4 separate regions of the Homo sapiens genome follow, and regions 2, 3 and 4 are each linked to region 1. The links come from fine-mapping of genetic effects on plasma protein levels. A gene starts in region 1. Each other region holds a variant in brackets. All regions are shown on one strand. Distances are from middle to middle.

Region 1 (8,112 bases):
GCACAATTCAGGGCTCAGGGAGTAAACAACTTGAATGAGATAAATATGATAAAGATGTAACATCAGCTTTAAGACCAATAATGGTGACAGAGAGTCGCTGTAATATTTCACTCCATCCCCACCTCTCCTCCCAAGGGACTACTGTAAATAGCAGGTGCAAGTGGAAAATGATTTGTTTGCAATTCCATTTAGTAGTAGCGTCACATAGAAGGTACTAGAAAGAATGAAAAAAAAATAGCCTCTCCTGTCATTCACTTCCATGAAGCAATTTCTAAGTGTATTAGTTATACATTATTTTCTACTATTCCTTGGAAATAAGCAGTAGATTTCTCTTAATTCATTTCACTTGAAAGAGTTATTTTGCTATGTGTAAGTCACTGAGTCCTACCTTTTATATGGTTTTCTGTTCTGTTCTGGTTTTCCTTTTTCAAAGAAATTAATAATTTATCTCAAGTGTGATTAGAGAAAAACCAAGTCCCTGGATTTCAAAGATTTATGATTTCAAATAGTGATGGTTTGCTACTAATTCCAGATCTACAGCAGAGCAAATTGTGTCTTTCTGAAGCATAAATGTATATAATACAATTAAACTGTAACATACTGTGCCTTCTTCACACTGATGTTAGGACCACTGGTATGTTTGAAACACTCCCTTGGAAAAGGAAATCATTTTATCAAATGACCTGATATCACTGCATATTGACTGACAACATATATCTACAAAAACTTCTATAGGCATATCTGGCTTTAACAGTCCATTTTGTGGAAATAAGGATTTGCAAATTAGGAAGTAGGACAAATTTGCTTAGTGCTAAGAGAAGAATTAATCAAATGGTCTATTTATAAAGCAAGCCTTTGGCTTTTATTTCAGGCACAATATCAAAATAAGCAAGCTTCTTGCTGCCACCCCAAAATTAACTCTGAAAAAATTATAGAAGCAAGAGGGAAACAGGGATTCCAAGAAAATACTGAAAAGATAGTGAGAAAATCTGAGGAGAATAAAGTCTCTCATGACTTCTAGAATGTGTATATGGATGTGTGTGTGTGTGTGTGTGTGTGTGTGTGTGTGTGTGTTGTGTATAGTGAATGTGAAGGAGAGGGGAGTGCTGCATCCAACAGCAGTGGTTGGTCTAAAGTAATGCCTGTTAGTTTCTACTCTTGCCTCAAAACAATCGATTCCTCTTTATTTGCAAAATTCTGCAACAACAGAAAAACGCTTGCTCTAGTGCTATGTGTCAGCAAAGTAGCATCGAAGAACTGTAAGACCCATCCTGTGTGGGGCTGGATGCGGTGGCTAATGCCTGTAATCCCAGGACTTTGGGAGGCCGAGGTGAGCAGATCACGAGGTCAAGAGATCGAGACCATCCTGGCTAGCACGGTGAAACCCCATCTCTACTAAAAATACAAAAAATTAGCCGGGCATGGTGGCGAGAGCCTGTAGTCCCAGCTACTCGGGAGGCTGAGGCAGGAGAATGGCGTGAACTCGGGAGGCAGAGCTTGCAGTGAGCCGAGATCGCGCCACTGCCCTGGGCGACAGAGCGAGACTCCGTCTCAAAAAAAACAAAAAACAAAAAACAAACAAACAAAAAAAACAAACAAAAAAAAACCACCAAAAAAAAAAAAACAAAAAACGAAAGTACCATCCTGTGTGAAGAACCAATGATAATAAGGTCATGTGTGATAGCACTCTCCAGTGCTCTTATACTCACGCCTTCTTACTCCCTAGTGTTGTATGGTTCAAATTAGCTTGACTACTTCCTCCCAATGCTGTTTTTTCCTGAAATGTAATCTGAGGAGTGGATATAATTCCGGGATTGACTCATAAAAGACGTAAGAATAATAGTAAATAATACATAAGCCCACTTCATAAATGAATTGCAAGAATCCTAACAAAATATTAACTCATCAATTTCAAAAATATATTAAAAATATCATGACCAAGTAAAATTATATGAGGACTGCAAGAATAATTCAAAATTAGAAAATTCATTGGTAAAATTCATCACATTAACAGACTAAAGCAAAGTAATATGACAAAAAATACGTCATTAAATTCAACCCCTGTATGTAGTTTTTTTTTTTTTTTTTTTTTTTAAAGAAAAAATAGAAGAGATCATTACTTTGGTAGGAAGCATATACTGCAAATCTATACCCAATATAATGGTTATTGGAGAAATTCTAGGTGCATTTCATTTAATATTGGGAACAAGAAAAGAATGACTAACACTTTTATTTAACACAGTACTGGAGAGATCCTAATCAAAGCCATAAGAAAAGAAAGTATATACATATATATATATATAATATATACAAGTAATGTAATGTATACATTTTATGTTATATATAATAATATAAAATATATTATTATATATAAAATATTTGTAACTTTTGTAAGAGAAGACGTAAAATTGTTATTGTTTTCAAATGATAAGATCATCTATCTGGAGAACACACCAAAATTAACAATTTTGCTAGATGCACTATCAACTTACAAAAATACCATTTCTATTACTGGAAACACTCAACTAGAATATAAGATTTAAGAAACACTTATAACAGTTAAAAAAACTATACAGTATCTGGGAAACAACAAAACAAATTTAAAAATCCTTTTTGGAAAAAATCTTAAAACTTTAATAAAGAACATAGCAGAAGTTCTGAATAAATTGAGAGTTTTGTAATGCTTTTAAATGGTACATGTTAGCATAAAGATATCAATCCTAAACTAACCTGATAATTGTTTACTTTAATTCCAATACAAATTTTAAGTGGCTTATGAATAACTGAGTAAACTTTTAAAAGAAGAATTGCTTGGGCGCAGTGGCTCATGCCTGTAATCCTAGCACTTTGGGAGGCCAAGGAGGGTGGGTTGCCTGAGCTCAGGAGTTTGAGACCACCCTGCGTAACATGGTGAAACCTCGTCTCTACTAAAACTACAAAAGTTAGCCGGGCATGGTGGTGCATGTCTGTAATCCCAGCTACTGGGGAGGCTGAGGCAGGAGAATTGCTTGAAACTAGGAGGTGGAGGTTGCAGCGAGCCGAGAGTGTGCCACTGCACTCCAGCCTGGGCGACAGAGCAAGACTCCATCTCAAAAAAAAAAAAAAAAAAAAGGAAGAAGAAAAGAAAAAGAAAAAAAAGAAAGAATTAATTGGGTTATCTTTTCATATTAGTTATTAAGATAGACTTCAAACATTTGTTGACAAAAATTTAATATTATTGTAGGAACAGATAAATCAACTGGTGGAGGAAAATACAAAACTTAAGAGACAGACCAAACATCGTAACATTAAAAAGCAAAGGAGGAAGAACAGACTATAGAAATATTTTAAAGGATTACGTGGATTAGAAAAGATGTCAAAAGCATTAACACATGTGAGTATAATGTGTGCACTATAGGTATAGACACATTTATAAACTAGTCACAGCACAGAAAAGTATTTGATGCAATATTTTCTTACTTAAAATTTAATAGTTAATCTTTATTCTGATCACTTTCTTTCATCTTATTATGTATCTGTGATACAGAAAGCAGCCTATGCCAATATGCAAAGTTTGCAAAACTGCTAGACTTCATCAAGTAAGAAATTCGTAAAGATATCCAAATAAGAATAGCTGTCTTGCATTTCTTGAGAAGCACTTTTTTTTCAAGGATGAATTCCCTCCCTTTTACTTGAATTCAATAAATAACGTAACTGAAATTCATAGCAATTATCAGATTTACATTACTTGAGAATTCTGACACTCTTCCTCCCAATTCATCCCTGCCTGTTACAAATCAGAAGCCCCAATTTACCTCATAACTTATCAATGTAGGGTAACTCCCAGGCTTGAAACTTGTCATCAATTTAATTTCTTTTGATCCACTTTCAGAGGTCTTAGTCATACAGGCAGACATTCTAGATTTGGTTTTAACTAGCAGAAGAGGCAACACCGGATCTTCTATGGCTATTGCAAATACTCCCAGAGTTTCCTGGATAGCATTTAGCCACAGGGAAGAAAAGCATTTTACTTTAAAATCTTCTGTCTAGTGGTAAATAACCCCTTTCATGTTGTCATTAGGTAGTTCTGTGGTCTCCTACTATCTGACTCTTCAGAATCACTTCTAATATGCTACGGAAGATAAAGCCGTATGTGGAAATTGCTTCCTTAGATGAAATATGCACGATAGATATTATATTTAAATTACCTACATAAACATGACTGAGTAGACTGACTTTTGACTGAAAAACTTCTAAAAGCCTTTTTTTTTTGTTTTTGATCTGAGTGCATTTCATGAGGTAAATTGCATTTTATGTTGATGGTCTTTAATAAAATACTTTTTAATCTTGAGATCAGTGCTATAATTTTGTTTTGACCAATTTAAAACTTTTGCTATGGCATCCCATATAGCTGTATGTTTTAATATTAGTAAAAGTTACTGATGTGAAAGTATGCACACACATATATTCATAGTTTTTCATTTTTCTATTAAAAATAGTTCTAGTACAATTGTTTCCACAAGTCATAGACATGGGAATTAGTTATATTACTTTAGAATGAAAGGTAAAAATTTATTTAAATTTCAAACTGGATAAAAGTGCTTTTGGAATAATAAAGCTGTCTATGTATTAGCTTCTCAGCTTAAAATGAATATATTAAGATAATTACTCTCATTAAAAGTTATCAATAAACTTTGGAAAATTGTAGATAAAATATACGAATATATCACTTTATCATTGATAAGGTATAAATGTGTTGTTCACCTTGAAATAAATAATGTTCACCTTGAAATAAAGGAGTTATCACTTACCAGTGGTTTCCAGAGCAGGATGAAGTATTTGTTTCATCTATTGACAGAAGGAAGGTGCAGAGAGAGAAGGTTAGAGCCGTATATATGAAACACCTATTTCCTGTTTTGGCAAATTCTGGTTGTGCAAGTAACTCTAGATCAACAAGGCCTGAAACAGGATTTGTCATACCAGTAGTCTCAAATTTCATTGCTGGTTTTCTAGTCATGATTTTGAAATTATTTGGTGATTCCTCAAATGGCTTTTAAAAATAAATTGCTATATCAAGTTTTGTAATTGTGCATTTATTCTTTGAAGTTCATATATTACAATTTATCCATGTTTTTGCCAGTCAATAGTTTGAAAATTCTTAGCCCAATTATTAGCATCACAACATTAGAGTTTTCAGAATTATTTCTGTTGGATTGAAATTAAGCTCATAATTTTTATGAACTCTAGAGAACACAATGTTTTTTACAGCTATCTAAAATGTTTATTAATAATCTATTGGACATTACTGTTTTGGATAATAATTTTATCTTTAATGTTTGTAAATACAAGGCCACAGTGACTTTCAGAACTCAATGGCCAAACACACCATAACTCATTGGTATTTCTATATTCAAAGATGTGCTGTATTTACTTGTATTTTCTGGTTGTATAAAATTAAAGATAATATTGATCTCCAAGCTAAATTATCATTATTTGGTTCTGTTCATCTATGGAAGATGTCAATCATTCCAGGCTTGTTTCCATAGCACAATAATGAAGTGGGGTGGACTAACAATTTCAGATTTCCTCTGATTCTAAAATACAATAATCTTAAATATTGAGTTTATATAAATAAAGAAGTATAAATTAATAAATCACAAGTAGCATATACATAGCACGCAGACATTTCTGCATGCTCATATTGGCATATAGATTGCACCTTGTGGTGCATAATTCAATAGTTTCTGTTCATTTTCATTTTTATATTTAGCTTTATTGATCAATGTGACAAAATGTATAATCACAGATCAATGTCTACACAATAGGCACATTTTAAAATTATAGTTAATTTTGAGTTCAAGAATTGGATACTTCTAAATGTCTGTTATAAGAGAGTTGAGAACTCAGAAACTCAGGTCAGATTTTACCATTAAAAAATGGTTAACCATTTGCTGCCATGTCTCCAAGTAACTCCTAGAATCTGTTTACTTTATGAACATGTGAAGTGGAAGCTCTCAATAAACCAAATCAGCTATGTGGAAAAAATCACCATGGAACAACCTTCTACACAATCCTCTTTCTGTGGCAAAATGTATTTTGTGGGGAAGGACCAGACCCAGAAGCATCCACAGCCCATTCTCTTCTCTACTTAGTGGTGTAGAATGTTGTTAAAAGCTTGATATTTCTGTTTTAATGGAAATGGGCTAAATTTCTATACCAATGTGTATTGGGAAATTTTTATATTTTATTATTTTATTTTATATCATATTTTATTTTATTTGAAGCAGGATCTCACTCTATCATCCAAACTGGAGTGCAGTGGTTAGATCAGAACTCATTGTAGCCTTGAATTTCTGGGCTCAAGGGATCTCCTATTTCAGCTTCCCAAGGAGCTGAGACCATGGTGTGCACTACTATACACAGCTAATTTTTTAAATTTTTTTGTAGAGACAGAGTCTTGCTATGTTGCCCAGCTAGTGTCGAATTTCTGGCTTCAAGCAATCCTCCTGTCTTGGCCTCCCAAAGTTCTGGACTTACAGGCATGAGCCACAGCACCTACTTTATTAGGAAATTATTATTCTGATTGTAAATTTTCATATTTATCATAAATGGGAATAATATTAATTGTATTTAATTGTGATACATAATATATGTAAGCTGCCTGCCATGTAGTAAGTATTTCCAGTGTTAATTCTCTCCCACTTTATGCACTTTTCTTCTGTATCTAGACAAACCTACCCCTAATATTTGTAAGCTGTGGGATTGCACTTGAGTTTTAGGACATGGTTTGACTTACTAAGCTATAGGCAGTTCTGTGAGAAATTACCATAAGTAGACACAAAACAGTATAAAAAGGAAAAATATTTTTGCCTCATTATTCAAACTTGATAGTTTTTCTCTAACTTTTTACTGAGTTATGACTAAATGACCACTAGATGCACCATGATGTAGAAGGCATTTTGCTTGTCAAATATTGGTACATTTATTATTAAGCTAAATAAGTATATGTGGTCTTTTTGGGTCACAAAATACCATACACACGTTGGACTGACAGACTGACTTCAATCTGACCTTAAGTGTCCAAAATGGCTGTTTCTAGTCACCTTTGTTCTCTCATTTCCCATGATTAGGTTGTCTTTTCTGTATTTACGTGTCCCAAGGTCATTGCTGGCCCTTCATGATCCATGTCTCCCAATTTTAGCAGTGAGTGTCTTCCAGCTCTTATTTGGATATCTAAGTTCCATCTTAAAAGAGCAAATAGTTTGTTCCTGTATATACATTTTAATCTATTCCCACTATTCTATTGAAACTTATCAATGAGTCTCTTAGCGACTGTTGCTATTAATCATTACATTTTGTTTTAGGAATGCTCCTTTTCTTACTCTTTAAAATTATTCTTCTATTCCTATGCTTTGACTAGTACAGTGTAACCAGATTGTCTATAATATGAATAAATAAAGCACAGCTTCCATCTCTTCCTAGTCAGCCCTTCTCTCATCTTAGATACAACAACATCTGAATGCTGCCTTCCTGGGATTTCTACACTGACCACCCAAAACTGACTAGTTATTACAAGGGCAACTGGGATCCCTGCCTTACAGCTGAACTCTTGACCCAGCTTTTTATGACTTTTACTTCCCCATTATTACCAACTACCTATAGTTTACTGATTACAGTCTTTGGAAATTGCCAGGTCTGAGAAATCCTTTCTGAGCTTCAGTTTTCTCTTCTCTGAAATGTGAATTTTCATATCATACGTTGGTTTTAATGACTGAAAAGCATAATTTGTGTATAAAAATGTACTGAATACATAATTAAACTATTAGTGCGATGCTTGGCATGTGACACTCAATAAATGGAATTATTAACATTTGTATTATTATCCCTTCCAAAGCCTGGTATTTCCTGAGTACATAAAAGTCTTCCACGAATGCATTTTGTTTGATTGAACTGCCAATTCAGGAGTCTTTATAAGAAGTCTTTCTTGTTTTAGGTATTTAGGAAACAATCATAGTTTAACCAGAAATTCAAGTGTTTAAGGTGCAGTTCTATCAAAGCCTGTCAGGGTGACTTTAACAAAATGATTGAGCATCTCTCATTTTCTGTATCCTCACCAATAAATTAAGGAGCACA
Region 2 (8,112 bases), 20 kb before region 1:
TTAATTTTTCACAAACCTTTCACAACTTGCTTAAAGCTTCAGCTTCATCTGAACTCAAACAATCCTTTACCCTTTAGGCAAAAAACAAGTCACATTCCCATGACTTCTTATAATTTATTTTAAACTGAAAACACATTTTACTTTCTTTGTACACCTTTCATGTAAAACTTTTTCTTCAGTAGTCTCAATTACATGTTATAATGTTAACTCTTATCAACGTTTACTTATGGTGAAAACCTTGGTAAGTTAGGATTTTAATTGTTTACTAAATGTAGAGCCTAGGATCCAGATAGAAGTGCAGATAAGGTCTGACTTTTTCCAATGTCTAACTCCACATGTCTCAGGCTTTACCTAGCTGTAAAGTAGGCAAGTTGTACAGTTAAGAGTCATAGTGGCATTTTATGAAGCATTTAAGAGGACTAGCCACCTTTAAATTGCACATTTCTTTCATAAATTCTATTTTATAAATTCTTTCATGACTTAACCAGACCATCTACGAAGTGCTTGGGCTTTCTGACTTGTCCTAAACATCCCTCTTTTTAAACAACCAGTTATTTTACTTTAGACAAGAATTTACCATACAAGATATTTTCTTATATAAAATCTCTTTTCTTTATAACCTTGTTTACATAGATAGGGCACATGGCTAATTTAACATGTGCCCAGGCTTTTTGTTTTTTTGTTTTTTTTTTTGAGATGGAGTCTCTCTCTGTCACCCAGAGGGGGGTACAGTGGTGCGATCTCGGCTCACTAGAACCTCCATCTCCCGGGTTCAAGCAATTCTCCTGCCTCAGCCTCCTGAGTAGAGGGAGTACAAGCACATGCCACTATGGCCAGCTGATTTTTTGTATTTTTATTAGAGATGGGGTTTCATCGTGTTAGCCAGAATGGTCTTGATCTCCTGACGTCATGATCCTCCTGACATCATGATCCACCTGCCTCAGCCTCCCAAAATTCTGGGATTACAGGCGTGAGCCCCTGCGCCCAACTGCATGTCCCCAGGCTTTATATAGAATCTAATGCTCCAAAATAAATTGAACAATTTTTGAAAGTTGAAGAAGCAGTTTATGACCTTAAAGCAAACCTAATATCTAACCTGTATAATTTAGACCAAATGTTTACATTTTGAAGATATTTTTATTTTACCAATAATGTTTAAAACTATCTTTATTTCCCAAAGATTACTTAAGTCACATGAACTAAATAAAAGATATTACACTTTTTACTTTTCTGACAAAATATTCTATTTGAGCTCTTATATTAAACCAATTAATTAAAGCTCTTTTATATTACACACACAACATACATAAATACATAGACAGAATAAGAAAGGAGTCATTCCCTAAGCTGGGAATTGAACCCTGAACCTGGGCTGCCATTGTGATGGTGGAGACCAAGAGAAAGTACTGCCACATGGTTACAAGGTGACATTCCCAAGGACATACAAGACAAGATAGAAACCTCATCCAGGTTTTTTTTTTTTTTTTTTTTTTCAGGGACTTGCAGCAAAGTTTGTAACTGACCAGTTTGCTGGGTCATCTTGAACAGTGGGCTTATGGGAGTACTAAGCCCACATTCTATCCTAAGGTACCACTCTTTTATGACAGAACAACACAAAAAAACACACAAAGCACACCATATTTATTATAGTTTAAGACTAGCCTCACAAATCCTTTTTCTCATTAATCAAAACTTTAAAGAGAAAATAAACACTGATTTTTGCCATTCATTCAACAGGTTTGCACAGAGAGAGAAAGTAAGGGGAAGGGAGAAAAGCATTGCTTACAGCAGAATGGGGGAAGTGAGGTGCTCAGAGAGGCCAGAGAAAGACCCACCCATTGCAGCTGGCACTGAATCAAAAGTTCAGGCAGCTGCTTGTCAGTCGAGAAGGGATCTTTTCCAGTACTCCCTTTGGCAATCAAGTTTCCCCTTTTATGGAGGAAAAAGTTCCCCATGTCCCATGATCCTTTACATGCCTAATTCTGTCACCCGCAGCTGTCACCAAAAAGTGCAAGGCAGATTAATACAAAGAGAATAGTGGTAAACATTCCTAGTGGCAAACCTGTTTTTAGCCAAAAGGGACTTTACTGACAGTGGCCTCTAACCCCTTACATCTTAGGAAGGACTCTAACCTTCCTAAGTTGGGCCTTGAACCCAAGTTCAGTCAAGCATCCTTACTTTTATTAAGAGGAGCCTTTTAACCTACTCTGTCTTAGGAGAGACTCTAACTCCCCTAAGTGGGCCTCTAACGCAATCCCATTCTTTACCCAGGTATATGTGCCCCACTTACCTAAAGTCAGCCAATCAATGCTGCAGTCTATTTCCTTTGGGTTGGGAGTCTCCTCAGTATTATCTCTTCATGGTCACTGGAAAGATGTTACAGGAAAGGGGTCCTGATCCAGACCACAAGAGAGGGTTCTTGGATCTCAGAGAAGAAAGAATTCAGGGTGAGTCTATAGAGTAAGTGAAAGCAAGTTTATTAGGAAAGTAAAGGAATAAAGAACGGCTACTCCATAGGCAGAGCAGCCATGAGGACGGCTGGTTGCCTGTTTTATGGTCATTTCTTGATTATATGCTAACCAAAGGGTCGATTATTCATGCCTCCTCTTTTTAGACCATATAGGGTAACTTCCTGATGTTGCCATGGCATTTGTAAACTGTCATGGCGCTGGTGGGAGTGTAGCAATGAGGACAACCAGAGGTCACTCTTGTCACCATCTTGGTTTTGGTGGCTTTTAGCTGACTTCTTTACTGCAACCTGTTTTATGAGCAAGATCTTTATGACCTGTATCTTGTGCCAACCTCCTATCTCATCCTGTGACTTAGAATGCCTTAACCATCTGGGAATGCAGCCCAGTAGGTCTCAGCCTCATTTGACATAGCCCTTATTTAAGATGGAGTTTCTCTGGTTCACACACCTCTGACAAAACCATGCACTTGATCTCTCAAGTTGCCTGCTTGGCCTTCTTCCAAGTGTACTTTACTTACTTTCATTCCTGCTTTAAAGATTTTGAATAAACTTTCATTCCTGCTCTAAAACTTGCCTTGTTCTCTCTTTCTGCCTTATGCTCCATTGGTCTAATTATTTCTTCTGAGGAGGCAAGAATTGAGGTTGCTGCAGACCTGTATGGATTCACTGCTAGAACAATACCAGATATATTTTATGCATGTGGAAAGATACATACTCTTATTTTGATGAATATTGTTTTCTGTGCATTGAAAGCTATTTGGATCAGAAGGCTCTTATTGAGATAATGCCCACGTATGTAGCACAAGGCTTCTTTGAAATCATTATTTTCTCATGTTTAGTTTCAGCTGTACAATACAATCTTTGTAGATCTTATCAACAAAAGTGATGAGTGAAGTTTGGCTCTTGATATAGAATAAGAGAGTTAAAGACACAGAGTCCTGCCATGTTCTGTGTCACAAATCTCTAAATCAGTTCCGATCTATATTTGTTGCCACCTCCCCTGGCATACAGCAGTAAAAACTGTGATCCTCTTTATCATTATCTTGGTTTTTTCTTTTGCTTGCATGGCTTGCATGGTTTCTAATGAGAATTCCACTGTAATTCTTATTCTGTTCCTCTATCAGTAAGATACCCTCCCTCCTTTTAATCATGTGACCTTGCTAAACTTACTAGTTCTAGTAGCTTTTTTGTTGATTCCTTCAGATTTTCTACAAGATCATTTTAATTTTCAAATTAAGGCAGTTTCTGCCTTTTTAATCTCTATACCTTTA[A/T]TTTTTTTCCTTTACTTATTGCATTGGCTACAATTTAAATAGTGAACTGTAAACCAGTAGTAAAATTCAAAGGTTCTCCATAATCATCTGAACGGACTCTCTCCTTGGCTAGGGCACCCTGAAGTTTTACCTGAATGACTGTATCAGGCCATGGTGGGAAGTGGGGGTCGGACATGCCTCATTATACCTCTCTAGCATTAACATCAACACAGGCCTTAAGCCTGGTAAGAAACATTTACAGTCTATTCTCTCCAAAGCCTGCTACTTGGAGGCTTCATCTGTATGATAAACCTAGGTCCCCACGACACCCTAATGTAACCCAGACATTGCTTTCTACTGATAATAAGTCTTTCAACTAATTGCCATTCAAAATATGTTAAAATCTGCATATGACCTGGAAGCCCTCCTGCTTCGAGTTGCCCTGCCCTTCCAGATTGAACCAATGTAAATCTTACATGTATTGATTGATGTATTATATCTCCCTACAATGTATAAAAGCAAGCTGTAGCCCTACCACTTTGGGCATATGTCGTCAGGACCTCCTGAGGCTCTGTCACAGGCGCATCCTTAACCTTGGTAAAATAAACTTTCTAAATTGATTGACACTTGTTTCAGATACTTTTTGGTTTACAGAACAAAAGTGGTACAAACTAACATATTTGCCTTATTCCTGATTATGGATTCCAGATAAAAAATGATGCAATCATCGTTTCAATGATAAGTAATAAAAAGAAAAAAACATTAAAGACTTAAACGATAGACCTAAAACCATAAAAACCCTAGAAGAAAACCTAGGCAATACCATTCAGGACATAGGCATGGGCAAGGGCTTCATGTCTAAAACACCAAAAGCAATGGCAACAAAAGCCAAAATTGACAAATGGGATCTCATTAAACTAAAGAGCTTCTGCACAGTGAAAGAAACTACCATCAGAGTCAACAGACAACCTACAGAATGGGAGAAAATTTTTGGAATCTACTCATCTGACAAAGGGCTAATATCCAGAATCTACAATGAACTCAAATTTACAAGAAAAAAACAAACAACCCCATCAAAAAGTGGGCAAAGGATATGAACAGACACTTCTCAAAAGAAGACATTTATGCAGCCAAAAGACACATGAAAAAATGTTCATCATCACTGGCCATCAGAGAAATGCAAATCAAAACCACAATGAGATACCATCTCACACCAGTTAGAATGGCAATCATTAAAAAGTCAGGAAACAACAGGTGCTGGAGAGGATGTGGAGAAATAGGAACACTTTTACACTGTTGGTGGGACTGTAAACTAGTTCAACCATTGTGGAAGTCAGTGTGGCAATTCCTCAGGGTTCTAGAACTAGAATTACCATTTGACCCAGCCATCCCATTATTGGGTATATACCCAAAGGATTATAAATCATGCTGCTATAAAGACACATGCACACATATGTTTATTGCGGCACTATTCACAATAGCAAAGACTTGGAACCAATCCAAATGCCCAACAATGATAGACTGGATTAAGAAAATGTGGCATATATACACCATGGAATACTATGCAGCCATAAAAAATGATGAGTTCATGTCCTTTGTAGGGACATGGATGAAGCTGGAAACCATCATTCTCAGCAAACTATCACAAGGACAAAAAACCAAACACCACATGTTCGCACTCATAGGTGGGAATTGAACAATGAGATCACATGGACACAGGAAGGGGAACATCACACACCAGGGCCTGTCATGGGTCGGGGGGAGTGGGGAGGGATAGCATTAGGAGATATACCTAATGCTAAATGATGAGTTAATGGGTGCAGCACACCAACACGGCACATGTATACATATGTAACAAACCTGCACATTGGGCACATGTACCCTAAAACTTAAAGTATAATTAAAAAAAAAAGAAAAAAAGGAAAAAACATTCACTCATTCACTATTAAGTATAAGGTTAGCTCAGGGATTGATTTTGCAGATGCTCTGTATTAGAATAAGAAAGTTACTTTCTATTCATAGTTTTCTGAAAATTGTTTTCATTAAATCCTATTAAATCTTGTTAAGTGCATTGATTTGCATTTTTTGAGATGATCATATTATATCTTTATTTTATTAGTATGATACATAATATATATATATATACACATACACATATATATTTATAATTTAGTACAATTTAACTTAATTTCTTTTCTAGGGAATAGCCTCTTTTTTTTTTTTTTTTTTTTTTTTTTTTTGAGACAGAGTCTTGCTCTGTCGCCCAGGCTGGAGTGCAGTGGCGCTATCTAAGCTCACTGCAATCTCCGCCTCCCGGGTTCACGCCATTCTCCTGCCTCAGCCTCCCGAGTAGTTGGGACTACAGTTGCCCGCCACCACGCCTGGCTAATTTTTTTGTATTTTTAGTAGAGACGGGGTTTCGCCATGTTAGCCAGGATGGTCTTGATCTCCCGACCTCGTGATCCGCCCGCCTGGGCTTCTCAAAGTGCAGGGATTGCAGGCGTGAGCCACTGTGCCCGGCTGGTAATAGCATCTTAACTGATGTCTTGCTTCCATTCTTGTCCTCTCACAATATTAGATCTAATAATATCACTCTTTAATATACTCTGATGATTTGCTGCCTTAATTATAATAATATCCCAATTCTTTACCTACCCTAGAGGGCACCATATAATGAGATTCCTGCCTAAGTTCCTTACCTCTTTTTAATATTTTCTTTACCATGCTCCCTCTACTCCAGCTATTATGGACTTCTTGCCTTTAATAAAATATGCCAAGTTTATTCCTACCTCAGTAACATTTTACTCACTATTCTTGCCTGAAAGTCTTCTCTATCAAATTATCTATTGGTGGTTCTCTCACTTGTATTGTGCTCTTGTTCCATAAAAAACAATTCAGATTTTGTCACTCTTCTGTTTAAAATCTTACAATTGGTTGTTCATTACTAAAAGGATAAATTCAAAGCTCCAAATAGTATTTAGCACTTTAGAGATGATTTACCTGATAATCTTATTTAAATTAACATTTCTCCCTCTCAGCCTATCCTCATTATGCTCTATCCTCTTCCCAAGTTTAGTTCATAGCATTTGTCATTTCCTGACATTGTATTAAGTATTTATTTGCAAGAGAGTTTTCTTTCTCTTTCCTCTGCTAGAGTGTGAACTTCATGAAATTTGGAATTTGGTCTGTCTTGCTAATTGTTCTATTTCAAAGTGCCTAATTGAATACTCAACACATAAGTGTCTTCAATAAATATTTGTTGAGCACAGGAATGAATTATTACACACTGTGATGATTACTATAAGAAGAAATATAGGGAGCTCTGAGAGAAAATGGGGGGAGCTTCCCTAGATTATGTGCTCAAAAGAATCTGTTGATGAAATAATGTTTAATGTGAAGTAGCAATTCTAGCAAATAATACAGTGATCACTCTTCCAAACAGAGCAATAGCAAACACAAACACCATAAGGTAAAAATAATCTTGAGGAATTTGAGATAATTTAACGGGCTCATCCTACTGAAACAGAGGAAATGAGGGAGGGTGGAATGAAGTGAGATTGGAGAGGGAAATATAAAAAACATTATTCAGCTTCTTGCAGATCAGTTTAAGATCGTGAATATTATACTAATTACTTCTGAAACCTATTGAAAGGTTTTGAATGGAGACTAATTAGGAAATTTATTGCTTGAGAGATTAAGAGATGCAGCCAAAAATAGCATCTAGGGGCTGCATTGGTGGTCTTGCACCTTCCTGTTTTCCTTTGCCTCATGATTACTTAGATCCTTGAAATTTTTACTGCAGTTTGATACTGGATAAGCATATCGATCTGATATGACAACCCGATCATTGATATTATCTGAAAGGACAAAATCAAACATATAGCACTGGGATAAAGGAGCTGAAGGTTAAAAGTCTAGGAAAGAATAACTAGATAATCTGAAGAAAAGCTTTGATGCATCATGGAGTCAAGAAATAAAATTCTTGTATTTTTTTTCAAGACACTTTTTATTTTGCATTGCTTTCTTAGACTTACCGAAAATTTGGTAAGATAGTACAGAGAATTCCTAGATAGCCCTCACCCAGTTTCAGTTTCTCTAACGTTATCATCTTACATTACCCTGCTATATTTATCAAGATTAAGAAATCAACACTACTGTTAAAAATACTCCAGATTCTATTCAGACTTCATCAGTTTTTTCATTACTGATCTTTTTCTGTTCCAGGATCTGATCCAAGAAGCACATTGCATTTGGCTCACATGTCTCCTTAGTCTCATGTGGTCTGTGATTGTTTCTCAGGATTCCCTTATTTTCCATGATTTTTACAGTTTTGAGGAATACTCTAAAATACCCCAGGGATATTTTGTAGAATGTCCTTCAACTTGAGTTTGC
Region 3 (8,112 bases), 59 kb before region 1:
TATAAGCATTCCTTTTCTCCACAACCTTGCCAACATCTGTTATTTTTTGACTTTTTAATAACAGCTATTCTGACTGGTGTGAGACGGTCTCTCATTGTGGTTTTGATTTGCATTTCTCTAATGATCCGTGATGTTGAACTTTTTTGGTATGATTGTTGGTTGCATGAATGTCTTCTTTTGAAAAGTGTCTGTTCATATCCTTTTCCCACTTTTTAATGAGGTTTTATTTTTTCTTGTAAATTTAAGTTTCCTGTAGATGCTAGATATTAGACCTTTGTCAGATGCATAGTTTGCAAAAATTGTCACCCATTATGTAGGTTGTCTGTTTAATTGTTGATAATTTCTTATGCTGTACAGAAACTCTTTAGTTTAATCAGATCCCATTTGTTAATTTATGTTTTTGTTGCAATTGCTTTTGGCATCTTCATTATGAAATCTTTGCCCATGCCTATGCCCTAAATGGTATTTCCTAAGTTGTCTTCCAGAGTTTTTATAGTTTTGGGTTTTACATTTAAGTGTTTAATCCATCTTGAGTTAATTTTTATATATGGTCTAATGAAGGGGTCCAGTTTTAATCTTCTACATGTGGTTAGTCAGTTACCCCAGCACCATTTATTGAATAGGGAGTCCTTTCCCCATTGCTTGTTTTTGTCAGATTTCTCAGAGATCAGATAGTTGTAGGTGTGCTGTCTTAATTCTGGGTTCTCTATTCTGTTCCACTGGTCTGTTTATCTGTTTTTGTACTTACCAGTATCATGCTGTTTTGGTTACTAAGCCCTGTAGTAATTTTTCAACTAGATTAAGCATTTTTTCAACTAGATTAAGATATCCATAATAATATTAGTATATAGACCCACATTTGAACAAAGTACTTAATGAATTCTGCTGAAACTTTAGATTAAATGTGGGCAATAACATATAGATTTATAAAACAGAATCAATTTTGATTTATATTTATAAACTATCAAAAAGAAACAAATTTAGTGTAGCAAATTTAAAAATTATATTTTACTGTTTTACATATAATATCATGGTTTAAAAATGATGAAATCACTTTAAATTGGAGGAATTTCTCATAGATTAATGCCAAAGTTTTCTTTTATTTTTTTCCCAGGCTGGCCTCAAACTACTGAGTTCAAGCAATCCTCCTATCTCAGCCTCCTAAGTAGCTTGGATTCCAAGTGCACACCACCATGCCCAGCTTCAAGATTTTTTTTTGCCCTTTCCATTTGTCATATGTTAATCAATATGTTGCTTTCCTCCTTGTCATTATTCCTTGTTAACTGACAGTGATCTCATGATCACCTTGAAATGTTTTTTAATATCCCCCAAGCATTTAAATAATTATTTACTATGTCCTCACAGGTTAGATCATTCTTTTTCTCCTTCAGATAATTGTGCCAGGCTGTAGAGTTTAAAGATCCATCTCCGTGAAATAAAGTAATAAAAAATAAAAGTTAAATAATCATCTGTCTCTCTGGCATCTATACTATACTATTTCATCCTTTCCTCATCTTCTTGTTTTTGACACTTTTGGTGGACCTTTGCTCTTATTTTCACAAACTTTTTTAAATTCTGGGATTTAGCATATTGTTTCACTTACTTCCCAGGAATCTCAGGTGGTATTGTGGCTTTAGGTGCCGTCTATACAAAGATGATTTTCAAATCTTTATCTCCATTTTAGACTAAATCCCTCCTTATATATTCAACTGTCTTCTCTATGCCTACACTTTCAACATGTCCAAACTGAACACCTGATTTAGTTCTAGCAACCATATAACATACTCTAGTTATCTATTTATTTTCTTTCTCTCTTTCCCTTTCTTCCTTCCTTCTTCCCCATCCCTCCCTCCCTCCCTCCTCCTCCTCCTATTCCTCCTGTTCCTCCTCTTCCTCCTTCTCCTTCCTTCCCACCTCCCTCCTTCCCTCCATCTTTCTCTTTCTTTCTTTTTCTTTCTTTCTTTTTCTTTCTTTCTTTCTTTCTTTCTTTCTTTCTTTCTTTCTTTCTTTCTTTCTTTCTTCTTTCTTTCTTTTCTTTCTTTCTTCTCTCTCTTTCTGTCTCTTTCTCTTTCTTTTTCTTTTTTCTCTTTCTTTTTCTCTTTCTTTTTCTTTCTTTTTTCTTCCTTCTTTTTCCTTCCTTCCTCCCTCCCTTCCCTCATTCCTGCCCTCTCTCCTTCTCTTCCTCCTTTCCCTCCTTCCCTCCATCCCTTCCTCCCTTCCTCCCTTCTTTTCTTCCTGTTTCAAGTTGAGGTTACCAGGCACAGTGGCTCACACCTGTAATCTCAGCACTTTGTGAGGCCGAAAAGGGGGGATCACCTGAGGTCAAGAGTTCAGAACCAGCCTGGCCAACATGGCGAAACCCCATCTCTATTAAAAAACAAAAATTAGCTGGGCATGGTGGCATGTGCCTGTAATCCCAGCTAATCTGGAGGCTAAGGCAGGAGAATTGCTTGAACCCGGAAGGCAGAGGTTGTAGAGAGCTGAGATCACGCCATTGCACTCCAGCCTGGGCGACATGAGTGAAACTCCATCTCAAAATAAATAAATAAATAAATAAATAAATAAATAAATAAATAGAGACATGCAGTGTATACAATACAGCACACAAAATCTTAATTGCATAGCTCATTTAATTTCTAAACATGTGTATACCTATGTAAATAGCACTCTAAAGGGCTCCTTCATGTTCACCCAACCAGGACCCTTCAAGGTTTAATCCATTTCTTGTCACCATTTTTATAATTATGGGTTTTTAATATAATAGAAACAGCCGGGCGCAGTGGCTCATGCCTGTAATCCCAGCACTTTGGGAGGCTGAGGCAGGCAGATCACGAGGTCAGCAGTTCAAGACCAAGATGGTGAAACCTCGCCTCTACTAAAAATACAAAAATTAGCCGGGCACGGTGGCAGGCGCCTGTAATCCCAACTACTTGGGAGGCTGAGGCAGGAGAATCACTTGAACTGGCGGGATGGAGGTTGCAGTGAGCCGAGATCATGCCACTGCACTCCAGCCTGGGCAGCAGAGTGAGACTCCATTTCAAAAAAAAAAAAAAAAAAAAAAAAAAAAAAAATATATATATATATATATATATATATATAGAAGTTGATAGGACTAAGTCACTATGTAATTTATAAAGACATATTCTAAGCCTGACTACCATTGAACTAAAGGTTTTAAATGTCACATTGTCAAAAGTGAACACATTTTCATGAATACAGAACAAGTAATCTACCTAAGAGCTTTATATAAAGGAAATATTTATTTTCAAATTAAATGTCCAGTTTGAATATATTTTTCATTCAAGCTATGAGCTAATTTTAGTTTTCATCAGGAAGCAGAATTGTGGTAGTGCTTAAAAGTATAAGACTTTGAGTCCTACTATATCTGTACTGAGTACATGCTTTGATGTTCCTTGGCTGATTGTATCTGGGCAAAGTACTTAATCTTCCTATCCTTGTTTCCTCATCCGTAAAATAAAGAGAAAGGAATATTGGGAGGATAAAGTGCAAAAATGAATATAATCGTCCCTCAGTAGCAATGGGGGATTTATTCTAAGACCCTTTGAAGATACGAAAATCCACTGAAGCTCAAGTCCTTTATATAAAATGGTGTAGCATTTGTTATGACCTACACACACCCTCCCACATACTTTAAAACATCTCTAGATTGCTTATAATACCAGATACAATTTAAATCCTATACAAACAATTGTTATATTGTATTTTTTAGGGAATAATGACAAGAAAAAGTCTGTGCATGTTCAATACATATGCAACCATCTGTATAGTACTTTTTTCCTACTATTTTTGATGATCAGTGGTTAGTTGAATCCATGGACGTAGAACTCACAGATATGGAGGACCGACTATATAAGGAATTCAGCATGGCCCCTGGGATACAGTATGTTTTCTAATTAACTTCTGCAGTGCTAAGGGGAAGCAGAGAAGAAAATTAAAATGTATTGAGTATCATTAGTACCTCTTACTCTTGAATATCTTACATACTTAACTTAAAAAAGAAATCTACTTAATTTGAAATAAATCAATATCCAATGGCATTAAAATTTTAACATGTAAATTAGGGGTATCTTATACAATCATATTTCTCAATACCATGGGGTTTAAGATCATTCTCATTGTTTTTATATGTGGATGTGTTTGGATTTGTGTGCCACATACATACACACACTTATATAGTTTTCCCCTCTACCTACTATTGAAAGGGACAGAAAGTCTAAACTTTCAGTCAATTAGTACTGGGTATCCTTTGGCTCATAGAGACTTTTTGCATGCATACTAACAGAACTTTCATCTCCTCTGTAGCATATCCCCTTTTGTTACTCTCTACTCCAGCCTCTTTCACAGCTCTGGGATGCTAAGGACTCTGATGCCTGGGAACTCTGTGAGCACACTGCCAATAGTTCCAGGTCTCACAAATGAGTTTCTGTTTTGGGCTCCCCGGATGCCTCCCATGGCTGCCATTGCCTCATCAGCCCCCACTGCCTTTGCCACTGGCCACCAATGCTGCAGTGATAAAGATGGACACTTCATATGAGCAGCATGAAATGGTGTTTTCTGAAATTTCCTCTAACTTAAAGTCACACTGTGTTCCTTTAGAAAGTCGTAAGACAGCATTTCC[G/A]CCCTTTGGTGTTACACTGTATCATTTTATGAATCATTTTTATGATCCTAAGGAAAGGTTGTCTCTGCAGTGACTGGAGATGTCTATGTCCTTATTTCCTACTTCTAAAATTATCAACTGATGAAGGCAGGGACTCACTTTGTTCACTGGTATTTCCCTGACAGCTCTGTTTATCTTTGTATGTTAAAAACCATAAATTCATACCGATACCACCAATTTCAATAGAACACCACAGGGTTTATTCCTACATTCTCCTTTCTCATATGTTTAAATCCCTTCTCTAATAGTGAGAAACCTGGTTCTCATTATTCATAATGTATTTATTCATTTGTTCAGTCGTAACATATATAGTCAGTTTCAGAACTACTAACTCATGTGTCTATGGTAAAAATAAACACAACTTTATTGACTGGAGTCAAACATTTGTTTGCAGTTTTTATCTTTACCTAGAAGGAATATGGCATTATAATACTCATTAGGTCGGCTGTTTTTTCCCCCACTTTTTATTGTGATTATTTATTTGAAATATAGTTTGTTTTTTGTTTCTATCCTGTTTTTGGGCTTTCCCCCACTTCTTAATTATATTAATTATACTTTATTTTAATGAGTATGTAAGACATTAATATAATTCACAAGCTGAAACTATACAAAGAGGAATACCCAGAGAAATATCACTCCTCCCAACCATTTTTTCTTACACCATTGTCATCCTCCAACCAGCCCACCCCATTCTCAGCCACCCATGGTATACTAGTGTCAATACTTTCTAGTATACTCTATGTTGCATCAACATTTTGCAAAAATGTGAAGCCATATATTTTTTGTATTTATCATTTTTTAATACAAAAAGTAGAATACTATAAAAATGTTTTGCTCTTCGCTGTCTTTCAATTAGCAATATATACTGAAGATACGTCCATATCAGCTCATAAATATCCTTATTATTCATTTTAAAAGCTGCATAATAATCAATTGTGTGGATGCATTGTAGTTTATTTAACCTGCCTTTTGTGTATGTATAGATTATTTCCAATACAAATAACATTTTAATAAATAATCTTGCACATATGTATTTTCATATTCTTGGAACAACAATATGAAATTGCTAGAAGCGAATTAATGATCATTTCTAAAGGACTGGTAGAGTAAAGGATAAATGCACATGCAACTTTGTTAGATATTGCCAAATTTCCCTCTCTGGTTTCAAAATGAAAATACCAATAAAAAACCCACAATGAGATACCATCTCACACAAGTTAGAAAGGCGATCATTAAAAAGTCAGGAAACAACAGGTGCTGGAGTGGATGTGGAGAAATAGGAACACTTTTACACTGTTGGTGGGACTGTAAACTAGTTCGACCATTGTAGAAGTTGGTGTGGCGATTCCTCAGGGATCTAGAACTAGAAATACCATTTGACCCAGCCATCCCATTACTGGGTATATACCCAAAGGATTATAAATCATGCTACTATAAAGACACATGCACACATATGCTTATTGCGGCATTATTCACAATAGCAAAGTCTTGGAACCAATCCAAATGTCCAACAATGATAGACTGGATTAAGAAAATGTGGCACATATACACCATGGAATACTATGCAGCCATAAAAAATGATGAGTTCATGTCCTTTGTAGGGACATGGATGAAGCTGGAAACCATCATTCTCAGCAAACTATCTCAAGGACAAAAAACCAAACACCGTATGTTCTCACTCATAGGTGGGAATTGAACAATGAGAACACATGGATACAGGAGGGGAACATCACACACCAGGGATGGTTGTGGGATGGGGGGAGAGGGGAGGGAGAGTGTTAGGAGATATACCTAATGCTAAATGATGAGGTAATGGGTGCAGCACACCAACATGTCACATGTATACATATGTAACAAACCTGCACATTGTGCACATGTGCCTAAAAAAGCCTTTAATTTTTAAATACAATTATCAGTACTGTCTATAAGCCTAAAACTTTAATTTTAATCTTATACTTAACAAATATACAATGTATAAAATATTAAGTGAAATGTTTTATTAATGTATTAGCATATTCAATAAATAAATATGAACTAGCATATGTAGTATAAACGTTGATAAAGCATGAATCATTCTCAAGCTACTAAAAATTTCTTTTTCTTACATCACTTTCTGCCAGGAGTAATATTATCTAACTCTTCCTGTCCTTTGACATCACTGGAAGCATCACATTGAGCTTCTAAATTTTCTATGCAGAAACTTTTCATTCCTAGAATCTTGAAATTCAGTGTTCTCGCACAAAACTCTTGTCATGCGAACAAGGGCAAATGACCACACAGTACCCATGCCAAAACTGCTGGAGTTGGGATTACTGGGGAAAATTCATAGAGGAGGGGTCAGAGGGTTAATCTGTTGTTCATCACCATTTGGGTCAGTGTGAAGAGATACAGTAGGTTCAGACATGAGACTGTTAGAGATTTCCATCCTTGAGCCCTGGAGCCTTTAAGTTTCACGATCACACAACGTGGGTTTCTCCTCTCATGTACTCAGGGGCGAGGATCAGAAGTGAAATGAACCTTGCTTCAGTTCCACTGTGGTACCTCTGCTTTCTGGATTGGGGCAGGCTTGGGGGACAGTTACCCCTCCCCTGATGCAGCAGAGGCCTGGGATCTAAGCCGGATGGTTAAAGTCACATGGCGTAACAAATAAACAACAGTATTAGGCACACCTGTGTTCACAACTGGGGAAATACCAGCCCTTCCTTTGATATGCCGAGGGACTGATGTTCAAGTTTTGAGAAACTGTCTCAATCACTGGGCCATAGCTTGTTGCCATGGAGCTTTGAAGGAAGTCAGTCCCATCTCTGGGAGGTCAACCTGCAATGGATGAGTCCTAAGACAAGCAAAGTCTTACTGTTCACTCTTAGTTTTACATCTTTAAAACAAATTAACAAAACTATGGTTCTGAAAAATTAAGTGACATGCATATTTACAGTTGGAGAAAAGCTTGAACAGGATTCAGTTTTCCTTGTATTTAGAAAAGCGTGTTTGTTTTTGTGTTATGTGGTGCTTCTTCTGTTAATACTAGAAGACTTTAAGATAAGGATGTTTCTTTTTTATTTTTTAAGGCTAGTCAACTGGGAAATATACAGAATATAAATACAAATAAAATACAAAATAAAAATGCTTTTTTTTTCAATTAGGAAAATACATTAAAATATTATCTGCCACAAATGAGTCACTGGGCATTTACTAGCAACCTAGCTGGTAACTAATTGGGCTTTAAGGTACAGGCCAAAAAGCCATTATATTGTGATGAGAAAATATTCCGAAAACAGATCTTACTCTGTTAATGTTACCTGTTGAGTGGGGATTGCCTCTAAATTTTGTAGAAAATTTTGAATACCATTAATGTCTATGCTGAGAGCCTCTTTCCAAAATGACTGCTTTACATTACCTTATTTCCACAAAAATGCATTTTTGAATCTCATTAC
Region 4 (8,112 bases), 15 kb after region 1:
TTTTCACATGCCAGTCTGGTCTCAAACTCCTGACCTCAGGTGATCCGCCTGCCTCAACCTCCCAAAGTGCTGGGATTATAGGCATAAGCCACCACACCCAGACCTTGGTTTGCTTTTATTGGATTTTGCTGTTCTTCTGAGTTTTGGTGATCTTCACTTCCAGCCGTATTTTAAATTTTATTTCTGTCCTTTCAGCCAAATCAGTCTGATTAAGAACCCCTGTTGGAGAACTAGTGTGATAGTTTGGAGGACATAACATACTCTGGCCTGGCTGGGAGCAGTGGCTCATGCCTGCAATCCTAGCACTTTGGGAGGCTGAGGCAGGTGGGTCACCTGAGGTCGAGAGTTTGAGACCAGCCTGACCAACATGGTGAAACCCCGTCTCTACTAAAAATACAAAAATTAGCCAGATGCGCTGGCACATGCCTGTAGTCTTAGCTACTTGGGAGGCTGAGACAGGAGAATTGCTTGAACCCAGAAGGCAGAGGTTGCAGTGAGCCAAGATTATGCCACTGCACTCCAGCCTGGATGATGGAGGGAGACTCCATCTCAAAAATAAATAAATAAATATATAAAATAACTATTTTTGGGTTAAAAAACTAAGATTATCCCCAAGACACATAATCATCAGAGTATATATATATGTGTGTGTGTGTGTGTGTGTGTGTGTGTGTGTGTGTGTGTGTGTGTGTGTGTGTATGGCCTTTTGAGTTGCCAGAATTCTTGCATTGTTTCTTTCTCATATCTGTGTATGATGGGTGTTCCTTTAATTGTGGTGTAGATTGAGTACAGTCTATAGCCTCCTTTGCTGGGTGTTTTCACAGGGCTAAGGCTTTGTGCAGAGTCTTTTTTAATTTGCTGCTGACTTATTTCTTGTCTTTGGTTTCACAGGGGGTTATGTTAGCAAGGTATTTTTGGTGTCAAAGCTTTGGGATGTGATCCAGTAGGTGGCTCTTAGGCATTTTGGTCAATAGGCAGGCTCTTGCTCAGTCATGTGGCTGTCTTATATTTTCTCACAGTTGCAGCTGCCTCTCAGTACTCAATACTCTGAAACTGTGGACCCTTCTTTCACTTGAGTGTTGGTTGTAGATCATAGCTTGGTACTCCCAGACTGCCCACCACAGCTCTGGGGAGATCTCAGGGTTTATGTTTCCTCCCTAACTTGAAGGCAACAGAGGAAGTGACCTACCTTAGCAGTGGTTGAAGACGAGGTCTCTTACTTGTCTTCTGGGGGCTCTGCCCCAGAGAGATGCAGATCATCAATTGATCAGTGTAATCAGCTCAGGATGGGGGTCGGTGTGGTAGGCTCAAGCCAGGAGTTCTGTGCCTGATGATAAGCACTGTGGGTGGGTGAATGGGACCTGGTCTTCTTTCCTCTGGGTTGACTGCTGCTTGTTGGAGCTGTGGATAAGGCACTTAGGTTCTTTTCTCCTTCGTTAGTATGGGAAGTACCACTGCTACTCTCTCTGCAGTGGCAGAGAGGCTTTCGGTTGCCCCTGGGGGCTTCACCTCTGAGAAACATGAAGCCACTGTTGCTGGAAGTTTCAGCCAGGGCAGTTGTGTGGATGCCTTGCTGGCATGAGCTTGAGGCTCTGCTTGTTGGGGAGCAGGGGGTTGATGGCTCACCAGGAGGAGAGACTGGTCTCCTCTCCATATGGTGACTGTGGCATGCTGTAAGCTTGGGTGTAGCCCTCAGGTCTTTGTTTCTTCCCCAGAACAAGGGCAGCAGGGATAGAGCCACTGCTGTGGCAGTGGCAGAAGTGCTGTCAGATGCTTCTGGGAGCCTCTTCCCAGGGAAACTCTGGGCCACTACCAGTAGTTTATGCTCAGCTGTGGGTGGGGTGACTGTTCTTTGGTCATGAACTGGGAGCTCTGCCTGGTAAAGAGTGGGGTTTGGGAGTTCCCAGCAAAGAATGGCTAGGCACCTCTCTGTATGGTGGCCTTGATGTGCTGGAGGTGCCAATGTAGTGACTAGGCCCTTTGTTCTTTTCCCAGCCCAAGGGCTATTAGGATGGTACCACTGCAACTACAGTGGTGCAGGGGTTGCAAGCTGACTGTGGGATTTCATCCTCAAACAAATGCTGGGCTGCCTCTGATTGAAGTGGTCAGGTGGGGGTAGGGTGGTTGTACTGGAGTCCCAGGTTGGTTGGCCCTGCCCAGGAAGAAGCGAGGACCGGGACCTGCATGGAGAATAGTCCGGTCACCTTTCCATGAGGTAAGTGCTCTGTACTGAGGGTCCAGACAAGACCCTGGTCTTCACAGACTCTCCAGAGCCTGGAGATAGCACTGGTGAGGGCTATGAGACAGCAAAGACGTCAACCCACCCCTCCCACTGGGAGCTCTGTCCCGTGGAATTGCAGAGCTGATACTGACTTGATAGCCCCAGTGGGGAGTGGGTGAAGACCCAGGCTGTGTGGACCCATCCAGTGAGGAGATATGGGATCAGGGACCCATGTAAAAAACAGTCTGGCTACTTTTCCACAGGGCTGCTGTAGTATGCAGGGGATCCAGTCCAGTCCCTAATCACCTTGAATTTTCCAGTACTTGAAGGTATCAACAGTGAAGGCTGCGAAACAGCAAAGATGGAAGCCTGCCCTCCCTCTGGGAGCTCCATCCCAGGAAGGTTTGGAACTGCTGCCAGCTGGAAAACACTGGCAGGGGTGGTTGTAGACCTCAGTTGAGAGATTCTGACGAGTGAAGAGAAATAGGATCCGGGACCCACATGGAAAAACAGTCTGGTTACCTCTCTGTGTAGCTGCTGCACTTTACCAGGGTAACTGCTCCAGTCCTTAGTTGTCTTGGATTCCTCAGAGCTCAGAGGTATTAATAGTTAAGGCTGTGAAAGAGCATAGATGGTGGCCCAAGACACCCCTTGGGAGCTTGGTCGCAGGGAGGTATAATACTGCTACCCATAGCTGAGTGAAGTTCTAAGATGTGGGTCTTATCCAGTGAGGTGCCATGGAAGCAAGGTCTGCAGACTGTGGCTGCTCAGGCCCCTGTATTCAGCCCCTTTCCTAGAGGTATGTATGGAGGTCTAACCTCCCATTTTGCCAGAGCTGCAGCCACTTTTATTGGGAAGCTCACTTGGGGCTCCATGTGTGTCTGAGCAGCTGCTCTTCTAATACTCTGTGTAGCTCTGTGTGTCTAACTGAAGGCCCTGGTGGAATAGGTTCATGAAGGGGTCTCCTGACTCAAGAGTTGCAAAGATCCATGGGAGAAACATCAGTACCTGGGAGTGTTCACTCACTTACCACTTCCTTGGGCTGGGGAGACTCCCCTGGCTCCACATTGCTCCTGGGTGGGAGATATCCTGCCATTCTTTTCTCCATTCTTTGTGGGTTGAATTGTTTTTCTGATGAACCCTAATGAGTGTACCTGGATGTTTCCACTGAAGGTGCTGTATTTACTCACCCCTCTATTTCTCTCCATGGGAGTGGCACACACTACCTGCTTCTAGTCTGCTGTCTGTTAAAGACTAACTTGCTGTAGCTTGTTTAGTATAGGGTCATATGTGACACTATCATTTCATAAATTTTCATAATTAGGGTTGTGTTTTTGCTCACCACTTTAGATCAAAGTTTTAAAATCTAAGCACCGAACCATTGCTGGAAATAATAAGGTCTTGCGAATGAAGCATCTGAAGGACAATCCAAAACTGAAGTCCTGATTTCTGACAAATAAGAATCAATTTTCTCTTTTTTTCTGTAAACTTTGACATATGTGACAGGACTGTGTCTATAATCTGAGTATGGATATAAGCATCACTAGAATTAATAGTTCAACAAATAGATATACAGAAATTAATAGCATCCACTGTATTATCTTCAGATATCTAGGACAATTGTGTGTGTGTGTGTGTGTGTGCAATTGGCAGAGATTATATCTTTATTGTTGCTGAAAAACTAGAAAGAAGGAAGATATATTTTGCTATTTGAGGAGGAAGTTTGAGAATCCTGTGGGCAGTGGCATAATTTATCCTGTGAGTGGCATAATTTCTATTGATGACATATTTTGC[T/C]CTTGGGAAATAAACAGAGCAGTGCTTACACATGAATACAACATTAAAAAATCAGAAATTAATGGTGAATGATTTGCAAGTAATCTTTTTGGTGGTGTTTTCTTAACTTTGGCAATATTTTTCTATGAAGAGGACTGTAAATGGATAGCCACCTTGTACAGGTATTGTGTTATTGCTACTCTCTTTAAGGCCAGGTTTAAAATTATGAATGTAGTCTTTGATTAATGTTACCTAATAAGAAGTGCTCAGTATCATTGACCACAAAAAAAGCATTGTATCTTCCAAATGATGACAACTCTCACTTCAGTGATGAGAATTAAATAATGTTTGCTTTCTGTTCTAATTCTTCTTTGCTTCCTTATTTAACATTTTAAGAAAAAGACATTTATCATAAAAATAAATTACCATTTTCAACTTTTGTATTTGTTGCATACATTTAACTTCTGTCTAGTTGATTTATATAAATTGAAATTGTTGTAATTATCAGTAGTATCTTTTATGTATCCAATGAGAGTTATACCTGTAAATTAAAATACTTGATAAAAAGCACTTGGGTATATGTCATCTGTCATTTCACACATCCTAATTGCTCATGACTAGTTCCTAAAAAATTCAAATGTCAAATTAAAGGAGTCATTATTATACTGAAAATGTTGAGAGCCTTTTGAGCAATGACATACTGTTGCATTTTTTTAAACCAATCAGATTACAAGTCTTTAAATATTAGTGGTGGCATTGTAAATGGGAATAGATAATTTGTTTTAGACAGTCAACCTTGGTGAAATAAGCTTATGTTTCTTTATTGAGAGCAATTGTAAAAAGCCAAATTGTTTCCTAAGATGAAAGATAAACACCTCTCAGGCAAGACTATATTTTCTTTATAGCTCATTTAATTGCTTTAAATTTTTTATCTCCACAATTTCTTTCTGATCCCTAAGCCACAAATTATACTCTGCCTCTTGGTTGCTCAGGTGTATTTCATTTACTTTACCTTTCTAATGTTTTCATCTTAAAATTTTATTGGGATCAATATGAAGACGATTGATGCTGAAAAAGAACTTTGGTTACATCTTCACGTACGAATACACAAATATAAATGTTATCAGAACATTTGTTTCTCCGAATAGTATCATTTTCTTTTATTAATAGTTATGTTCAAAACATGTCATCAAAGTAGGCCTCAGTAGAAATGTAGTGATGTAATTATTGCTATTAATTTGCTTACTCGAAGGCACATAATTTCTCCAGCTCTAGCTAGGAAACTTCTCCTGATATCTATCTCATAAACAAAGACTAGAAACCAGGTAAGTTATTTCTCTGTTTTCTGTGTGTTTTAAAGAAACACAAATTAGGTATTTTGCTACGCACCTTCAGTCTGGGCTGAGGTCAGTAGCGACGGCTTTTCTCTGATCTATATGGGTTTCCCTTGGCAGCTTGACTAGGGCTGGAGGATCTACTTCTAACATGGTGCACCACATGGCTGACTGGCTAATGGCAGCCTATGTCATAAGACCTGGGCCTGGAAATCAGAGCAGCATCACTTCTATCATATTCTATTGGTCAAGCAGTCACAGACCCCAGATTCAAGGAAAGAAGACATAGACCTCGCCTCTCAATTGGTAGAGTGTCAAAGAATTCTGAGGTTGTATTTTAAAACCTTCAAATTACCTTCAAAAGGTTTATTATTTATTTATTTATTTATTTTACCAACTTGCTTCCTGCCTCTGGTGTAAGTGGCCCATACAATTCGCTCCTCTCTGGCTTCTTTCCAGAAACTCTAGAAACATTCTCACTTTATAATATAGAGCATTTCACCTCCCTCCAGCATTGTATTGAAACGCTTTGGGCTAACTTAGCCACTCCAGATCCCAAAAACTGGGCCAATGCACAGACCAGAGAGAAGCTTGGAAGCATTTGGCTTTCCCTTCCCCTTCTGTCACAATGCCTGAGAAGGGAAGAGTAAAACAAAGTATTTTACTTCTGTCCAATGTGAACTATGTTATTTATCTAGAAGCAACTTTGGTCATTTTTGGTCATATAGACTTTTCACCTTATTTCCTTTGCACAAGTACATGGTTCCCTGTCTTCTGTGGACTCATTGTAGCTGGCCTCCTGCTCCTCCTCCCTGGGCTTTGCCTTCCCCTGGGCCTCAAGACTTGACTCTGTAAATCCTTTTCCTCAATCTCCTACTACCACATTCCCATGAGAGTTGAGAGTCATGAGACTGTAGAATTAAAAATAAGTTATTTACTTTCAGAATATAATGGTTGTACAGGCACTGGGTAAACATTCTTACTCTAAAAGGGAGAAATCAGCCAAAAGCAAGGATTTCTTGGAAGTTCAAAACTAAGCAGGGCAGACATTAAGTCTGAAAGCTCCAAAATAATCTCTTTTGACTTTATGTTCTTCATCCTGGGCACACAGGTGAGCTCCCAAAGTCTTGCTTAGTCCCATCTCATGGCTTTTCTGGCATGCAGCCCATGTGGCTGCCCCCACAAGTTGAAGTTGAATTCATGTGGCTTTTTCAGGCTGAAGTGGCATACTGTCAGTTTCTCCACCATTTTGGGGTCCAGACAGTGGCTCCACTTCTGCAGCCTCACTAGGCATTGCCCAGAAGGGAACACTTTGTGGTGGTTATGGTCCTATGTCAGATGCCTGCTTGAGTACCCAGGCTTTCCTATACATCCTCTGAAAACTTTGCTTCTTAGAAATTTCTTCTGCCAGATAGCCTAGGTCATTACTCTTAAGTTTAGCATTACACAAAGCCACAGGGCATGGACACCATGCAGCCAAGTTCTTTGCTATGATGTAATAAGGGTGACTTTTGCTCCACTTCCCAGGAAATTTCTCATTTCCATCTGAGACCTCCTTAGAATGGTCTTTACTGTTTAGGTTTCCGTCATCATTTTGTTCACAGTCACAACCAATTTTTAAGATGTTCCAAACTTTCTCTCTTTTTTTTTTTTTTCTGAGCCTTCTAACTCTTCCAACTTCTGCTCATTGCCCGGTTCCAAAGCTACTTCCACATTTTCAGCTATCTTTATAGCAACAGCTCACTTCTTGCTACCATTTCTCTTAGTTCATATTTTGTGATTATTACAAAATATCTGAGGCTGGGAAATTTATGAAGAATAAAAGGATTATTTGGCTCACAAAGGTGATGACTGGAAAGTTTAAGATTAGGCATCTGCACCTGGTGAGGGTTCTAGGCTGCTTTCACTCACGGCAGAAGGTGAAGGGGAGCTGGCATGTGTAGAGATTACACAGCAAGAGAACAAGGCGGTAGGAAGTGCTGGGCTCTTCTTAACAAACTCTCTCAGGAACCAATAGAATGGTAACTCACCTCCGAAGGAGTGATTTAATCTGTGGGTGAGGGATCCACTCTCATAACCCAAACATCTCCCATTAGGCCCCACTTACGATATTGAGGCTCAAATTTCAACATGAAGTTTGGTGGGAACAAACATCCAAACCATTGCATATGCCCAGCCTATCTAACAGGATAGTTTAGCCTGGCCTACGTTAAACATGCCCAGAACACTTACCTTAGCCTACAGTTGGGCAAAATCATCTAACACAAAGCCTATTTTATAATAAAATGTTGATTAACTCATGTAGTTTATTGAATACGGTACTGAGAGTGAAAAACAGATTGGTTGTTTACCCCAGTGATTGCCTGGCTGACCGCGAGCTGCGGCTCATCTCCACTGTCCAGCATCACAAGAGAGTATCCTACCACATATGGCTAGCCTGAGAAAATATCAAAACTCAAAATTTGAAGAATGTTTTCTATTGAATGTCTATCACTTTTTCACCATCCTAGAAAAACCCAGGTTGAATCATCATAAGTTGGGGATCATCTGCATAAGCCACATAGTATTTGCTGAGAACTTGGTATGTATAATTTATTCTGACTTCCGTGGAGAGAAGAGAGAGTATGCAGATCATTTGGATATATTAATGCACTGCTCCTAAAAGCAAATAAAAAACAGCAAGGTGCTCACCTTTTTTTTCTAAAGCATGTGGATTTTTGTCTTGTTTTATGTTGTTTTGTTTTGTTTTATCCTAAACCCACTGACTCAGAATCTCTGGAAGTG

Direction of the effects. Positions count from the first base shown, and alleles are read on the strand shown. Strength reflects both the effect of a copy and how common the allele is.
For the plasma level of the protein whose gene starts at base 4,848 in region 1, T is the high allele of the variant in region 2 and A is the other (strong association).
As copies of A replace G in region 3, the plasma level of the protein whose gene starts at base 4,848 in region 1 goes down (strong association).
For the plasma level of the protein whose gene starts at base 4,848 in region 1, allele C in region 4 goes with a lower level than allele T (strong association).

The links. PIP is the chance, under the fine-mapping model, that this variant and not a neighbour inherited with it causes the effect. The UK Biobank Pharma Proteomics Project read protein levels with antibody pairs (Olink). The fine-mapping took linkage between variants from a reference panel, not from the people measured, so its PIPs are less certain.
Region 2: its variant is fine-mapped to the plasma level of the CRISP3 protein (UK Biobank, PIP above 0.99).
Region 3: its variant is fine-mapped to the plasma level of the CRISP3 protein (UK Biobank, PIP above 0.99).
Region 4: its variant is fine-mapped to the plasma level of the CRISP3 protein (UK Biobank, PIP above 0.99).

The regions. Positions count from the first base shown.
Region 1 is chr6:49,739,541-49,747,652 of GRCh38, forward strand. It overlaps CRISP3 (cysteine rich secretory protein 3), which reads right to left and starts at 4,848. Exons shown (of 8, transcript NM_006061.4): 1 at 4,791-4,848. The coding sequence starts at 4,827.
Region 2 is chr6:49,719,669-49,727,780 of GRCh38, forward strand. CRISP3 (cysteine rich secretory protein 3) reads right to left here. Exons shown (of 8, transcript NM_006061.4): 8 at 7,708-8,112. Among named protein-coding and RNA genes, the nearest start is that of CRISP2, 10 kb to the left of the region's middle. RefSeq lists a silencer at 394-594. The variant A/T (reference allele first, on the strand shown) is at 3,742.
Region 3 is chr6:49,680,625-49,688,736 of GRCh38, forward strand. It overlaps a transcript of CRISP2 not described here. Among named protein-coding and RNA genes, the nearest start is that of CRISP2, 29 kb to the right of the region's middle. The variant G/A (reference allele first, on the strand shown) is at 4,640.
Region 4 is chr6:49,754,796-49,762,907 of GRCh38, forward strand. No RefSeq gene overlaps it. Among named protein-coding and RNA genes, the nearest start is that of CRISP3, 14 kb to the left of the region's middle. The variant T/C (reference allele first, on the strand shown) is at 4,016.